2 separate regions of the Homo sapiens genome follow, and region 2 is linked to region 1. A link means that fine-mapping ties the variant in region 1 to the expression of a gene that starts in the linked region. Tissue or cell type: prefrontal cortex. Region 1 holds a variant in brackets; the other region holds the start of a gene. All regions are shown on one strand. Distances are between the middles of the regions.

Region 1 (8,100 bases):
CTCTTTGTGTCTCTCCCCATCTTTCTCTCCCCTCTCTCCCCTGACCCCTACTCTCTCCTCTCTCTCCCTCTCTCTCTTCCCTCTCTCCTCTGTCTCTCCCTTCTCTCTCCCTCCATTTTTCTCTTCTCTCTCTTCTCAGTCTGTCCCCCCACCTCCTCTCTCTCCCTCTTTCTCTCTTTCTCTGGCCTCTCTCTCTCCCCTCTGACTCCCTTCCTCTTGTTCTCGCCCCTCTCTCCCTCTCTGCCTCCCTCCCTTCCTCTCATAAACACACCCTAGATGTGTAGGATCTTCAGCTTCTCACCCCCTTTCACGCTAGGTGGTTGTGTTCCTTTTTCTCTGATGACTCCCACTGAAGTCTTTGTCACAGCTTTGCTCTTGGGGATCTCAGTGGAGCAGTAGTGAGAGCTCAGGTAGAGGGGCAGGAGGAGGAACCAGGTCTTGATGTCACTTAGCATAATAGCATAATGTCCTGCAGGTTCATCCATGTTGTCACCAATGGCAGGATTAACCTTCTTTTTTTTTTTTTTTTTTTTGAGACAGAATCTCTGTAGCCCAGGCTGGAGTGCAGTGGCATGATCTCAGCTTACTGCAACCTCCTCCTCCTTCACTGGGGTAGAGGGGGCAGGAGAGGGAGAAAGGGAAGAATAAGAAAGACGTGTGTGTGTGTGTGTGTGTGTGTGTGTGTGTGTGTGTGTGTGTGTGTGTGTGTGTCTTACCTGATTGATCTGGCTAGAACTTCAAGCGCAATGTTGACTAGAGGTCGTGAGAGTGGTCTTCCTGATCTTAAAGGAAAAGCTTTCAGCTTTGCACTATTGAGTATGATGTTAGCTATGGGCTTGTCATATATGGCCTTTATTGTGTTGCGGTACGTTCCTTCTGTGCCTAATTTATTGAGAGTTTTTATCAGGAAAATATGTTGAATTTTATCAAGTGCTTTTTCTCTATCTATTGAGGTGATCTTATGGTTTTTGTCCTTAATTCATTAATGTAGTGATCACATCTTTGTTTTGTTTTGTTTTGGTTTTTGATTTTGGGTTTTTTTGAGACAGAGTCTCACTCTGTCGCCTGGGCTGGAGTGCAGTGGTACAATCTTGGCTCACTGCAGCCTCCGCCTCTGGGGTTCAAGTGATTCTCCCACCTCAGCCTCCTGAGTAGCTGCGACTACAGGCATGTGCCACCATGCCCGATTAAGTTTTGTATTTTTAGTAGAAACATTTTCTCCATGTTGGCCAGGCTGACCTCAAATAATGGCACCTGATCTCAGGTGATCTGCCCGCTTCAGCCTCCCAAAGTGCTAGGATTACAGGCATGAGCCACCGCGCCCAGCTCACATTTATTGATTTGTCTATGTTGACCCACCCTCGCGTCCCAGGGATAAATCCCACTTGATCATGATGAATGATCCTTTTAATGTGCTGTTGAATTTGGTTTGCTAGTATTTGGTACCTATTCTTATCAGAGATATTGGCCTGTAATTATCTTTCCTTGTGTCCTGGTCTGGCTTTGCATTCAGGATAATGCTGTAAAATATGCTTGGAAGTATTCCTTCTTCTTTATTTTGGAAGAGTTTGGGAAGGATAAGTATTGGTTTTTCTTTAAATGTTTGATGGAATTTCACCGTGAAGCCATGTGGTCCTGGTCTTTTCTTTAGTGGGAGATTTTTTTTTTTCGGGCAAAGGACTTAAATAGACACTTCTCAAAAGAAGCCATACAAATGGTCAACATATATATGAAAACATGCTCGGCATTATGAATCATCAGGAAAATGCAAACTAAAGCCACCATGGGATATCTCCTCCCACCTGTTAGAATGGCCAGTATCAAAAAGACAAAAGAGAAGTGAGGGCCAGGATGTAGGAAAACGGAACCCTTATGTGCTGTTGGTGGGAATGTAAATTAGTGCAGCCGTTATGGAGAACAGGATGGAGGTTCCTCAGAAAACTAAAAATAGAATTGCCATATGATCCAGCAATCCCACTGCTGGATATCTATCCAAAGGAATTGAAGTCAGTATGCTGACGAGATGCCTGCACCCCCATGTTCATTGCAGCACTATTCACAATAGCCAAGACAGGAATCAATCTACAGTCCATTCATCTGTCCATCAACAGATGAATGGATTTTTTAAATGTGGTGTCTATATGCACAATGGCTAAAAAAGGAGGTTATTGGGAAGCCAAGGTGGGCAGGTCACCTGAGGTCAGGAGTTCAAGACCAGCCTGCCCAATGTAACAAAGCCCTGTCTCTACTAAAAATACAAAAATTAGCCAGGCGTGGTGGCAAGTGTCTGTAATCCCAGCTACGCGGGAGGCTGAGGCAGGAGAATCGCTTGAACCCAGGTGGTGGCGGTTGCAGTGAGCCGGGATCAAGCCACTGCACTCCAGCCTGGGCAACAGAGAGAGAGTCCATCTCAAAAAAAAAAAGGAAGAAAGAAAAAGGAGGTTAATCCTGCCATTGGTGACAGCATGGATAAACCTGGAGGACATTATGCTAAGTGAAATAAGGCAGGCACAGAAGACAAATACCGTATGATCTCACTCATATGTGGAATCTAAAGAAGTTGAACTCATCAAAGTAGAGAGTGGAACGGTGGTTACCAGAAGCTGGAGGAGGGGGTGGAGGGGGAAAGGGGAGAAAGGGGAGACATCGATCAGAGGGTGCAAAGTTTCAGTTAAACAGGAGAAATAAACTCTAGTGATCTGTTGCACAGCATGGTGACTATAATAAATACTAGTGCATTGTATATTTCAAAATTGCTAAGCGTAGATTTTAAATGTGTTCATCACAAAAAAATAAGTATGTGAGGTGATGAATTTGTTAATTAGCCCAGTTTAATCATTCCACATTGTAAACACATATCAAAACATCACATTGTACCCTATGTATGTATATAATTGTTATATGTCAATTAAAAATACAATTTTTTGGCCAGGTGCGGTGGCTCACGCCTGTAATCCCAGCACTTTGGGGGGCCGAGGCGGGCGGATCACCTGAGGTCTGAAGTTCAAGACCAGCCTGACCAACATGGTGAAACCTCATCTCTACTAAAAATACAAAATTAGTTGGGTGTGGTGGCACATGCCTGTAATGCTAGCTACTCGGGAGGCTGAGGCAGGAGAATCGTTTGAACCCGGGAGGCAGAGGTTGCAGTGACTTATGATTGATCACGCCATTGCACTCCAGCCCGGGCAACAAGAGCAAAACTAAGTTTAAAAAAAAAAAAATACAATTTTTAAAATAAATCTTTTTTTTTTTTTAAAGAAAGAAAGAGAGGCGGGCACGGTGGCTCAAGCCTGTAATCCCAGCACTTTTGGAAGCCAGAATGGGCAGATCACTTGAGCCCGAGAGTTTGAGATCAGCCTGGGAAATATAGTGAGACCTATCTCTACAAAAAGAGTTTAAAAATTACCCAGGCATGGCCCAGCTACTCAGGGGGCTGAGGTGGGAGGATCACTTGAGCCGAGGAGGTAGAGGCTGCAGTGAGCTGTGATTGCTCCTGCACTCCAGTCTTTGTGACAGAGCAAGACCCAGTCTCAAAAAAGAAAAAAAGAGAAGGCTCACATTGTGGATTATTTTCAAAGCATTTTTCCAGGTATCAACTCCTCGAACCCTCATAACAGCCTTCCTCTTTAAGAGGCGAGGAAACTGAGGCTCAGTGGGGCAAAGCAGCTCACTGAAGATCACCTTACCTGGTAAACACAGGATCCAGGATTCACACCCAGGTGTGTGCAACACCCGGTGTCTTTTCTTCTGTGCTGTATCACCTACTCACAGGTGTGAGCACCTAGGGAACAGGCTGCAAGGAGCAACATGGATAGTGCCTACTGTGTGGTCTTGAACAAGTCCCCTTCCCTCTCTGGGCAAAGAGGTTGCTGGTTTGGGATCCACAGCCCTGGACCCTGTGTTCAGTCCTGTCGGCTGTGTGCATTGTTCCAGGTGATGGGTGTTCCATGCCTACCACTCACTTCTGACCAAATAGCATCAATAATTTAAGCTCTCTTTCTTTCATAACCTAAGAAAATTGGTCCCCTGGCAAGACATGAAAAATAATTTCATGCTCTGTTATCTCCCCTCTCAAGATCGCCCCTGACAAATTGTCTCTTTATTGTCTGTTGCTCTAGCATCAGCTCACATTTGGGCTCCCATTTTTTATGGTTGCCAGCCTTACTCCTGGCTCTAACTGGGGTGGCTCCTAAAATGATCACCACCAAATTTCAATTTCCTTCCTTCCTTCCTTCTTTCCCTCCTTCCTCTCTCTC[T/C]CCCTCCCTTCCTTTCCTCCCTCATTCCTTCCTCCCTTTTTCCCTCCCTCCTTCCTCCACTCCTTCCTTCCTTCCTTCCTGCAGCAAGTATGGCCCGCTTTGCCCAAGGACCTGAGGCTTTCCTATAAGAAACTCTATAGTTGTTAATACTAAAGTGTGAAGGGCTTTTTTTTTTTTTTCTCCTGAGATGGAGCCTTGCTCTGTCACCCAGGCTGGAGTGTAGTGGCACCATCTCGGCTCACTGTAACCTCTGCCTCCCAGGTTCAAGCGATTCTCCTGCCTTAGCCTCCCGAGGAGCTGGGATTACAGGTACACACCACCACACCTGGCTAATTTTCGTATTTTTAGTAGAGTCGGGGTTTCACCATGTTGATCAGGCTGATCTCAAACTCCTGACCTCGTGTTCCGCCTGCCTCGGCCTCCCAAAGTGCTGGGATTACAGGCACGAGCCACCACACCCAGCCCCTTGTTTAACTCTTTAAAGGGAGGACATGAACCCAGCAACTTATTGTTTATACATTTTATTTGTGCCCATTATCTCTTTCATCCACCCCCCAAAACCTTGCACAACCTACGGTGGGCTCAATGGTCCTGCAGGCTGGGTGGTCTCAGGCAAGTTGCTTGAACTCTCAGAGCCTCTGAGCCTCACGTCTCTGCTTTAAATAGACAATAATTGCATAAAGAAGTTACTGTGAGGTTTTTTTGTTTTTTTGTTTTTTGGTTTTTTTTGAGATGGAGTCTCGCTCTGTCCCCCAGGCTGGAGTGCAGTGGTGCAATCTCGGCTCATTGCAAGCTCCACCTCCAGGCTTCATGCCATTCTCCTGCCTCAGCCTCCCGAGTAGCTGGGACTACAGGTGCCCGCCACCACACCCGGCTAATTTTTTTGTATTTTTAGTAGAGACGGGGTTTCACCGTGTTAGCCAGGATGGTCTCGATCTCCTGACCTCGTGATCCACCCGCGTCGGCCTCCCAAAGTGCTGGGATTACAGGCGTGAGCCACCAGGCCCGGCCCTGTGAGGTTTAAATTATATCACATGTGAAAGGGATAAACACAATATGTATCATCGATATTATTATCATCATTATTCTGAGAAAGGTATGCTTGGGTAAAGGGTTTTGGGTGGAGATAAGGGAGGAGGTCAAAGCAAAGGGACCGAGAAATGTATAATAATACTAATAACAATATTAAGAATGATACTAACAATTTCCATCAACCTTTACTGAGAGCTTACCAAGTTCTTTGTGTGTACCCTGGGCACAGGCATATATATAATATATCATTTAACTTTTTGCAAGCAAGGAGATGAGAATTTCTCCATTAAAAGATGAGGAAACTGGGGTTACATGCTGGTAAACCCAGGATGCAAACCCAAACCCATGATGGCCTCTTCTGGAGGCTGGTGCCAACTCAGTCTTCCTGTCAAAGTCAAACAGTGGCCTCTCTGTGGTAGGTGCAGCAGAGCCCTCTACATCCAGTGCCTTCTAGGGCCTCAGGGGCTCTGAGTGAGGAAACTTCTAGCTGGAAGATGGTAGCCAGGCCCAGCCCTCATTCTGGGCCTCAGAGTCCACAGAGATTGACTTCATGGGCCTCTCTAAATTGTCCTCACCCCTATGTCTTCCTAATCCCATTTCCCTAGGACTGACCATGGAACCCCTTCCTGGACAGTACCCCTGCCCCTACAGCAACACTTACAACTTCCACAGTCCATTTCATAAAGCTCGTTTGGAAACTAATTCATACTAGGCTGTGAGTGGCTATCCTAGCTAACTCTAGCATTTCCTACCTTATGTTCCACAGGCCACTCATAATGCAAGGTGCTCCACAGAAGGGAAAGAACAAGTTCATAATTGTTCTGTGGTCAAATAAATTTGGAAAACTCTGAATATTCTATTCTCCCTTCCAGAGATTCACAATACATGTTAAACTATTGTAGGCACTGAGAAGTCCTGCAGTGTGGACACCAACAATACCCAAAACTAAAGCACATGATTTTTTTTTTCAAAGAACAATGTTACAACATCTGTGTAACAGTCTGAAAAATCCTGACTGAGCAGCCATGGAGGTATAGGGGAAATATCTGTATCCCTGGACAATTATATAAATTCCCCAAGGCAAGGGATTTTATCTTTGTTCCCTGTTAGATCCTGGAACCTGTAACAGTGTTTGGTACATAGCAGACATTTGATACATGTTTAATGAATGAATGAACGAATGAATGAACAAGTCTGTGTCTGAATCCTGGCTTTGCCTTTAACTTGCTGTATGGCCTTGATCAAGTCCCCACACTTCCCTGGGTTTCCATTTCCCTACGTGTTAAAAAGGGATGAAGGCCAGGTGTGGTGGCTCATGCCTGTAATCCTAACAATTTGGGAGGGTGAAGCAGGCGGATTGCTTGAGCCAAGGTGTGCGAGACCAGCCTGGGCAACATGGCAAAACCCAGTCTCTGCAAAAAACAAAAAACCTGGGCATGGTGTCATAGGCCTATAGTTTAGTCCCAGCTGCTTGGGAGGCTGAGGTGGGAGGACTGCTGGAGCCCGGGAGGCAGAGGTTGCAGTGAGCCGAGATTGTGCCACTGCACTCCAGCCTGGGTGACAGAGTGAGATGCTGTCTCTCACACACACACACACACACACACACACGATGAGATAAAATTATGCATTCTCAATATTGTTAAGAATGTTGTTGAAGCCCCAACCCCCAGTACTTCAGTAGGACCCCCAAGAGGTGAAAATTGATCTTGGGAAGCAAAAAAACCATCTTACTCTTTATGTATAAAACACAGATATATATACAGAGTTTGTACAGACGTATATTACATACTTTATATTTGTGATATTAAAACTTCATGGGGTGGGGTCAGGTGTGGTGGCTCACACCTGTAATCCCAGCACTTTGGGAAGCCAGGGTGGGAAGATCACTTGAGCCCAGGAGTTCAAGACCAGCCTGGGCAAAATGATGAGACCCCATCTCTAAAAACAAAACTTCATGGGGGGAGGTGTAGGAAAATAACATCTAAAAAGACTCTCTAGGGGGATGACAAGGAAAGACAAAATGTTGGGAAATGCTAGACTTGATGATCTAGAAGCGTCCTTGTTCTAGATCCAGATCTAGAAGGTCTGACAGTCTATGAATCTGGCTCTACGGGAGAGTGTTGATGGGAAATAGCAGAGGGAAGAGTGTTCTAGGAAGAGGGAACAGCACAAGCTGAAAACCTCAGATGGGAATGAGCCTGGGTTATGGGCTGGACTGTGTGCCCCTCTAGCAGCTGAAATAGCTCAGATGGGAGAGTGTTTGACCGAACTATGTCCCCCTAAAATTCATATGTTGAAGTCCCAAACCCCCAGTACCTCGGAATGTGACTGTATTTGAAGGTAAAGTGTTGAAAGAGGTGATGAAGTTTAAATGAGACCATTAGGGCGGGGCCCTAATCCAACAGGACTGGTGTCCTGTTGGAGGAAGAGGCAGCTGGGATGCATGTGCATAGCGACAAGACCATGTGAAGATTCAGGAAGAGGCTGGGCAAGGTGGCTCACAACTGTAATCCCAGCACTTTGGGAGGCGAAGGCAGGCAGATCACCTGAAGTCAGGAGTTCAAGATCAGCCTGGCCAACATGGCAAAACCCTGTCTCTACTAAAAACACAAAAATTAGCCAGGCATGGTGGCACACGCCTGTAATTCTAGCTACTCGAGAGGCTGAAGCAGGAGAAACTCTTGAACCTGGGAGGCGGAGACTGCAGCGAGCCAAGATCTCACCACTGCACTCCAGCCTGGGCAACAGAGTGAGACTCTGTCTTAATAATAATAATAATAATAATAATAATAACAATAATAATAATAAA
Region 2 (8,104 bases), 21 kb after region 1:
TCATTTCCCCTCAATTTCTGCCTATAAAATGGGGCAGAAACAAACCATATCACAGAGTTGTTGTGAGGTTACATAACATGCCTGGTACAGAGTAAACATTCAGGAAATGCCTATTCCTTTCCTTCTCTCTTTCCCCTTTCTCTTCCAGTTGAAGCAATCCAGATAGGCTTGCCGTTAGAGGAGGCATTTGAACTAGACTCTGAAGGATGAGGAAGATATGTACAGAGTGAGATGGAAGGAGAGGCATTCTAAGAAAAAGTTCAGAGGTGGGAACTTGGGGCACATGTACAAGAAAGAGCTGGTAGCCCAATTGGCCTGGAGCTCAGGGGACCTGAAGGGAAGTGAGGCAGGAGAAGAGGGCTAGGCCAGGGCCTGCTGGGTCCACAAAGCCTGAAGATGAATCCGGATGGCACTGTGGGCAGCATAGAGGAGCTGTTAGTTGCAAACATGCTTTGCAAACTGTGGCACACTTGCCAAATATCCAGGACTTGTACAATTTGCTGTGTGCCTCTTGTCCCGAAACCCTGCCCTCTGAATTGGCGTATGAGGGACCTAAGAGGTCCCTCATACATACATACTTGTGTGTAAAATGGGTGTAACAAGCATAGGAAAACAGCATGACTGGAAACCAGATCATCTGAGATGAAATCCAGCCCTGCTTCTTTCTTACCATCCGTGTGACCTGGAGGACACCTGAGTCCTGCTCATGACCTGTAAAGTGGCCACACCAGTTTCCTTTTAAGAGGGTGAAATGCAGCTCTATCAAACGCATGACTTTAGGCTGGGCGCAATGGCTCACGCCTGTAATCTCAGCACTTTGGGAGGCCGAGGTGGGTGGATCACCTGAGGTCAGGAGTTCAAGACCAGGCTGGCCAACATGGTGAAACCCCGTCTCTACTAAAAACACAAAAATTAGCCGGGAGTAGCGCGGGCGCCTGTAATCCCAGCTACTAGGGAGGCTGAGGCAGGAGAATTGCTTGAACCTGGAGGCAGGGGTTTCAGTGAGCCAAGATCATGCCATTTCTCTTGACCCTGGGTGACAGAGCAAGACCCCGTCTCAAAAAAAAAAAAAAAAAAAAAAAAAAGGAATGCATGACTTTGATGAAGGGTTGGCATGAAAATGAAAGGTTAACAATGCACCCTCTACAGCCAGACTGCCTGGGTTTGCATCCCACTGGTGCTGGCTGGGTAACTTTTAAGCATGTTACTTACGCACTCTGAGCCTCAGTTTACTTGTGTGTAAAATGGGTGTAACAAGGTAAGTTGGGATTAGTCTAAGAAACAGGGGGATTGTGAGGATAAATGTGAATAGCACATGAACAGCAGCTGGAATTGCTCCTGCAACATAAAAAATATTGTGGTATTTCCATCATCTTCATCATCACCATTGCTAATAAGAAAGATGATTATTATTAATTGTTGATCAAAAAGCAGGGGTGCATAGTTTTTAAGAGCCTGGGTTCATGAGTAAAGAAGATGTGAGTTCCAATTTTATCTTACATTTCCATTTTTATGAGAAAGTGGCTGAGAGAGAGGAAGGAAAGGGAGTTGCTTCAGTTTCCTTATCCGTAATTGGGGTTAATCCCAGAGACTTCATCCTTATACTGAGGAGTACAGGACAATGCAAAAAAAAAAAAAGAAAAGAAAAAAAGAAAAGAAAATAAATTGGCTCCATAAGACAGGGCAAAAAAGAAAAAGATATAATGAAGGATACAATAATAATAATAAATGCTCAGAGTGGAGCCACCAACATGGTGGGCCATCCCCCTTCTCTGCCCCCACCCTCTGGCAGACAGCCCATTCCTGGGGCTTTAGGGGGGGCACGGAACTGCCCCAGATGACCTGGCTTTGAAGCCTAGACTGGTGGGTGGGCCCTCACCACAGGCGTCTTGGCCCCAGTTCCAGTGGCTACCCCATCTTGCAGTTCCTGCCCACACCCCACCCACCAAGTCTTGGCCCAGGATGAAAGGCCAAGGAGAGGCTAGGAAGCGAGGGGGTGCTGGGTGGTGGAGGGACAGAGGCAAAGCTGGCTCCAGGCCAGGGAGAGTTCAAGACAGAGCTGGGCTCCACGGGGAGCCTAGAACCCCGAAAAAGAAGAGACAGGAGCCTATCCAGATGCCCCCGCAATATACCCTGCCTGGGACTGGGGAGCCGACTGCAGGTGACCTAGCTGAGCAGCTCCCCAGGCTCCTTCTGACCCCAGCTGTACTGTGAGTTCCCGCCATGTGACTATGTTGAAGTCATTTGTTCCACCTGGGCCTCGGTTTCTCCATTTGTGAAATGGGAGGATTGGGCCCTGTGATTTCTGGCGTCTGTTCCTCCGTCCTGAGGCTTGATCACCCCAACTTGACCTCTGTCTCTCCGTCTCTCGCTCCTTCACTGTCCATGTCCCCTGTGCCTCTCTGTGTCTCTGTCTCCACCTCTCTCTTTGTCTGTTACTTCTATCTGCCTCCTTACTTCTCTCTCCTTGCCTTGGTTTCCCTATCTCCTCCGTACCCTACCTTCTGTTCCGATCCATTGGAACCACCATTGAGTCACCAGTTATTGACTGAGAACCCATGATGTGCCAAGCTCTACCTAGCCAGGCCCAGCTAGGTGCTGGGGCCAGTGGTGAACAAGATGTGGTGGGCATCTGGGGCTTGCCAGGGCAGGAGGCTCTGGGACAGGCAGTCATATTTCTGGCCACCAGCACTGTCCTCCAGGTCAGATAACGTGGCCTGGGTAGAGGCGGGGAACTGGGGTGGCGAGAGGGATCACTGTCGATAGGTCAGGAAAGGATGGGGCCCAATGTGGGGAAAAGAAAAAGACCCAGGTCTCCGATATCCAACCCAGCTGAGCACAGTGCGACTCTCCCATTCCCACCCCAACCTACAAAGAGGAAGTCAGGCCAGGGGGCCTCAGGCCAAGGTCAAGGCTGGACAGCAGGAGAAGAAAGCACACAGGCCCAGAGCTGGCTGGCCTGGGCTGGCTCTGACCTCTCTGTGCCTTCACTTTCCTCTTCTGTGAAATGGGCATAATGAAAGTACCAAATAAGGCAGATTGTCCCGGGGACTGACCGAGATAACACGGGTTCGGCACACAGTAAGCACTCCGTAAAAAAGGCTGTCCATATCAAACCCACATCTGCCTTTACAAAACGCTTCTGTGCTCATTGTCACCTTCTTTTCTATATGGCATCCAACAGGGACACGTGCCCACCTTATAATTGCAGACACAGAGGCCCCCCTAGGGGTAGAGACCTACCAAAAGCCACACAGCGCGCAGTGGCTGAGTCAGGATTCAAACTCTGGTCTCCTGCCTCCCAGGGTCTCCCCTTTTCCCTGCCCCATGTTGGCAGCCAGCAGGGACCCTTTTGGGGGCCCATCCCTGGCTGGGGTTGTTGAGAAAGGAGTCAGGGTAGGGTTGGAAGGTGAAGCTGCTGTGGCCAGGGTTTCTGCTGTGTGTGCTGGTCTCACAAAGGAAAGTGCTGCTGTCTGCAGTGATCCAGGCGAGGTCAGGGCCCCAGTCCCCCACTCCCTGCCCAGGCCTGCTGAGCCAGCTTCCCCTTTGTGCCACAGACTATAGGGCCTGATGTCTGCCAGACTATAAAATGGGGGGTCGGACTCTAGTCACCCATAGCACCTGCCCGCCTGCCTGTCCTCCAGCAGGAAGTAGCAAGTCCCCAGGTAAGAGGGAACCCACAGCCCAGCTGAGAGCTGAAGGGGAGGGGAAGAGAAAAGGGAGACAGAGAGAGGGAGGCAGAGATAGCAGTGCCATGAGAGTCAGAGAGCAGGGCCATGGAGATAAAGACGGAAGTGGAGAGAGGAAGAAAGGGAGGGAGAGGGAGAGGGGAGAGAGTGAGAAAAGACAGAAATAGAGAGAGAAGTAAATATAATTAAAAAGGACAGATAGAGAGATAAGCAAAGATACAATGAGGGAGAGATAGTGGGGGAGAGAGGAACAGAGAGGGAGAGAAACAGACAGGCAGATAGGCAGAAAGAGGGAGAGAAGTAAGAAACAGATAGAGAGGCAAAGACAGGGAAGAGAGGAGGAACAGAGGGAGAGGGTGAAGCAGGGAGAGAGAGAGAATGAGAATATCTCCAGGAAGGCATGAGTCCAGCTGCCAGCCCTGGGGGAGTGTTTAAAGCCACAGATGTGGTCCAGATGTCTGGCCTCACCCCTGGTGAACAGGGGGCACCCCAGAATATGCACAGCCTTCCTGGAGGAGGCTGGGGGAGGGATGTGCTTATCCCAACTAGCTCCGCCTTACAGAATGTGTTCGGGAATCAGCTTGACCAGAGGGTCTTAATCTGTGCTAGCAGGGGGTCCTCAAATCCCTTAACATTGTCTCCAAAGTTAAAGAGAGCATTATTTTTGTCCGGGGACAAAGTTGAGGTATTCATCAAACATTCAAAGGAGTCCACGACCCCAAAGCAACAAGGAACCACTGGAATTGACCAAAGCCCTCTCCACCCAAAGCCTACCCAGCCCCAGTCCTCATTTTCAGAACCCTCCACATGCAGTAAATACATCCTCTTGGGTCCTCCCATAAGCCTCAGTCCCCGGCCTGTATTTGCACCCATACACCAACCCCTCAGAGGAAGCAGACGGGGAAAGGAGCTGGGAGCATGCATTCATTCATTCTCTGAACAAATGTTAATTGGGCATCTCCTATGTGCCAGGTGCAGAGCAAGTGTTAGGGATGGACGGTGAATAAATCAGATTAAGCAAATGGCAGAATACTTTAAAAGCCCAGTTGCTGGCTCCATTTCCTTGAGTTGAAATCAGAGCCCTACCACTTAGTAGCTGTTTGGGCCTGAGCTGGGCCCCTTCCTTCTCCAGCCCCCTGCTGCTCAGAGGGGATCATGATAGCAGCTACTCCATCGGGTGAGGTTCATGGTCAGATGGGTTAATTAATGTATGTCACAGTGCCTGGCACACCTTAAGTACTCCCAAATGGGACTTCTTGTTATTAGTCTAGGGAGGCAAATTGGAGTTGCACAAGCAAATCAGTGTGATAAGCAGTGTGGAAAATTGCAGGGGGCTAAGGAAGGACCTAGCGGGGTAATGGAGGGTGGAACAGCTAGTGGAGGGAACCGCATGGTCAAAAGCCTGGAGGAAGGATATATGTGGGATGAGTGGCCCCCAGACGGGAAGGTCTTGGCTGGGAAGTAGGGATGAAAGAAAAACTTCCAGGCTTAACCGTTTCAGAAGGAGATAGAGAGGAAACGAGCTCCAAGGAGGCTGAAAGCACAGGATGTGGGGCTATGAGGGCAGGAGGCAGTTTGGGGGTGTCATCCCTGAAGGCCAGAGTTTCTTTACAGACTTTTGCAGGCGGGAACCATGTCTCAGGCTGCAAAGGCCTCGGCCTCGGCCACAGTGGCGGTGAACCCAGGGCCTGACACCAAGGGGAAGGGGGCCCCACCTGCAGGAACATCCCCTAGTCCCGGCACTACCCTGGCCCCAACAACCGTGCCTATTACCAGCGCCAAGGCGGCGGAACTGCCTCCTGGGAACTACAGGGTAAGGACCTGGGGGTGCAGTGGCTGGGTGCCATGCCTTCTTTCCTTCCTTCCCTCCTCCTCCTTCTTCTCCTCCTCCTCTTCCTCTTTCACCTCTTACTCCTCCGCACCTCTTTCTCCTCCTTTTTCTTGGCTTATTTTCTCTCCTTTCTATTTACTCTCCCTTTTCTTCTTCTCCACCTCCCCAGACTCTTATCCTCTGTCCCTATTCTCTTTTTCCCTCACCTTGGCCTCCTCCTCCCTCCTCCTTCTGGGACACAAGTGTGGCCCAGCCAATCTGGGAGCCCATAAAATAGCCAGGGGTTCTGACACACTTGGAGAAAGTGGGGCCGGGCGCAGTGGCTCATGCCTGTAATCCCAGCACTTTGGGAGGCCGAGGCAGGTGGATCACCTGAGGTCAGGAGTTCGAGACCAGCCTGGCCAACATGGTGAAACCCTGTCTCTACTAAAAATACAAAAATTAGCCAGGCGTAGTGGTGGGCGCCTGTAATCCCAGCTACTTGGGAGGCTGAGGCAGGAGAATCACTTGAACCCAGGAGGCGGAGGTTGCAGTGAGCTGAGATCATGCCACTGCACTCCAGCCTGGGCAACAGAGGGAGACTCCATCAAAAAAAAAAAGAAAAGAATAGAAAGAAAAAGGGGACCTATAGTTGAGTTGTGCAATAACAACAACCAAACCATACCGCTTCACAGCTGAAGGGACACCTGGCAATCAGGCTACACCTGCACACGCACATGCTTAGAGTTTATCGAAAGCAAGAAAAAAAAAGAAGAAAAGGAAGTGGGCTGGCTTAGCAGCAGGGAACCAGCTGTCCTTGGAGGCTCACTGGGGCAGCAGGATGGCCTCAGACCCTCAAAATTGCTCGAGGTGGTCTGGGCTGAAAGGCATCCTGTGGAGCAAGGTGTCCAGTCCCCTGGGATTTGGTTTGGTGTGGTTTCAACCTCAGGTCACAGAAGTAGGCCATTTTGCAACCCCTAGTTCATGACACGCTCTCATGTGGTCAGTGCGTGGCAGGTTTTTATTTATGTACCTATTTAATCATTAGTTTTATTTAATTTCTAATAATGCAATATGCACCTACAAACCCACCACCCATATAAAAGCCAGGACTTGGTTAAAAACTTTCTACCTAACTCTAAGGTGTCTCCCTTGAGTCCATCATTTTCCTCCCCAACTCCAGGAAATACTGTCCTATCCTCAACCTGTGTCTGTAATCTGCTTGCTTGCTTTTGTATACAATTTTATGCATTATTCCTTTAAAAATGTATACACACATACACATGTATATTTATTTACTTGTTTTATTTATTCATTTATTTTGAGACCGAATTATGAGACGGGTTTTGCCATATTATCCAGGCTGGTCTCGAACTCCTAGCCTCCGCCTCCCCAAGTGCTGGAATTATAGGTGTGAGCCACCGCAACTGGCCGATTTACTTGTTTTTAATTTATTGAAATATGCAATGTGATTATTCTGGGCTTTTCTTTGTACTTTTCACTTACTATGAGATCCCTAATATCCATCCATATTGTTGCGCATGACTGCCGGCCATTCATTCTGGCTGCTGCCTGATATTTCAGAGCGTGACCATCTCTTTCCTGCTAAGCACGATTTCAGTGGTTGCTAGCTTTGCTCTCGTGAACAGCATGGCTTGGACGTTCTTATCCCTGTCTCCTGGTATCGGGGAACCTGCCCCGATATTCACATAGATTCTTTTCTATTTTTCCTAAGCGTCGGCCAGCTTGAGAAATAAAGGGACAGAGTACAAAAGAGAAAAATTGTAAAGCTGGGCGTCCGGGGGAGACATCACATGTCAGTAGGTTCCGTGATGCCCCACAAGCTGCAAAAACCAGCAAGTTTTTATTAGGGAGTTTCAAAAGGGGAGGGAGTGTGAGAATAGGTGTGGGTCACAGACATCAAGTACTTTACAAGGTAATAGAATATCACAGGGCAAGTGGAGGCAGGGAGAGATCACAGGATCACAGGACCGGGGCAAAATTAAAATTGCTAATGAAGTTTTGGGCACCATTGTCATTGATAACATCTTATCAGGAGACAGGGTTTTGAGATCAACCGGTCTGGCCAAAATTTATTAGGCAGGAATTTCCTCTTCCTAATAAGCCTGGGAGAGCTATGGGAGACTGGAGTCTATCTCATCTCTGCAGCGTCGACCATAAGAGACGACCACGCCCAGGGGGGCCAGTTTAGAGACCTAACCCCAGGTGCGCATTCTCTTTCTCAGGGATGTTCCATGCTGAGAAAAAGAATTCAGCGATATTTCTCCCATTTGCTTTTGAAAGAAGAGAAATATGGCTCTGTTCTGCCCGGCTCACTGGCGGTCAGAGTTTAAGGTTATCTCTCTTATTCCCTGAACAATTGCTGTTATCCTGTTCTTTTTTAAGGTGCCCACATTTCATATTGCTCAAACACACATGCTGTACAATTTGTGCAGTTAATGCAATTATCACACGGTCCTGAGGCGACATACATCCTCCTCAGCTGACAGGATTAAGAGATTAAAGTAAAGACAGGCATAGGAAAGCACAAGGGTATTGATTGGGGAAGTGATAAGTGTCCATGAAATCTTTACAATTTATGTTT

Alleles and levels. Positions count from the first base shown, and alleles are read on the strand shown. Sizes are in standard deviations (SD) of each study's normalised expression.
With allele C in place of T in region 1, the expression in prefrontal cortex of the gene that starts at base 3,615 in region 2 is higher (small effect, 0.39 SD a copy in ROSMAP).

What was found. PIP is the estimated chance that this variant, and not a neighbour inherited with it, causes the effect.
Region 2: CRYBB1 starts here. The variant in region 1 is fine-mapped to the expression of CRYBB1 in prefrontal cortex (ROSMAP, PIP 0.95).

What each region holds. Positions count from the first base shown.
Region 1 is chr22:26,634,570-26,642,669 of GRCh38, reverse strand. No RefSeq gene overlaps it. Among named protein-coding and RNA genes, the nearest start is that of CRYBA4, 17 kb to the right of the region's middle. RefSeq lists an enhancer at 1-829. The variant T/C (reference allele first, on the strand shown) is at 4,260.
Region 2 is chr22:26,613,538-26,621,641 of GRCh38, reverse strand. It overlaps CRYBB1 (crystallin beta B1), which reads left to right and starts at 3,615. Exons shown (of 6, transcript NM_001887.4): 1 at 3,615-3,665; 2 at 5,304-5,502. The coding sequence starts at 5,323. It also overlaps a transcript of CRYBA4 not described here. RefSeq lists enhancers at 2,530-3,205, 3,884-4,561, 7,272-7,950.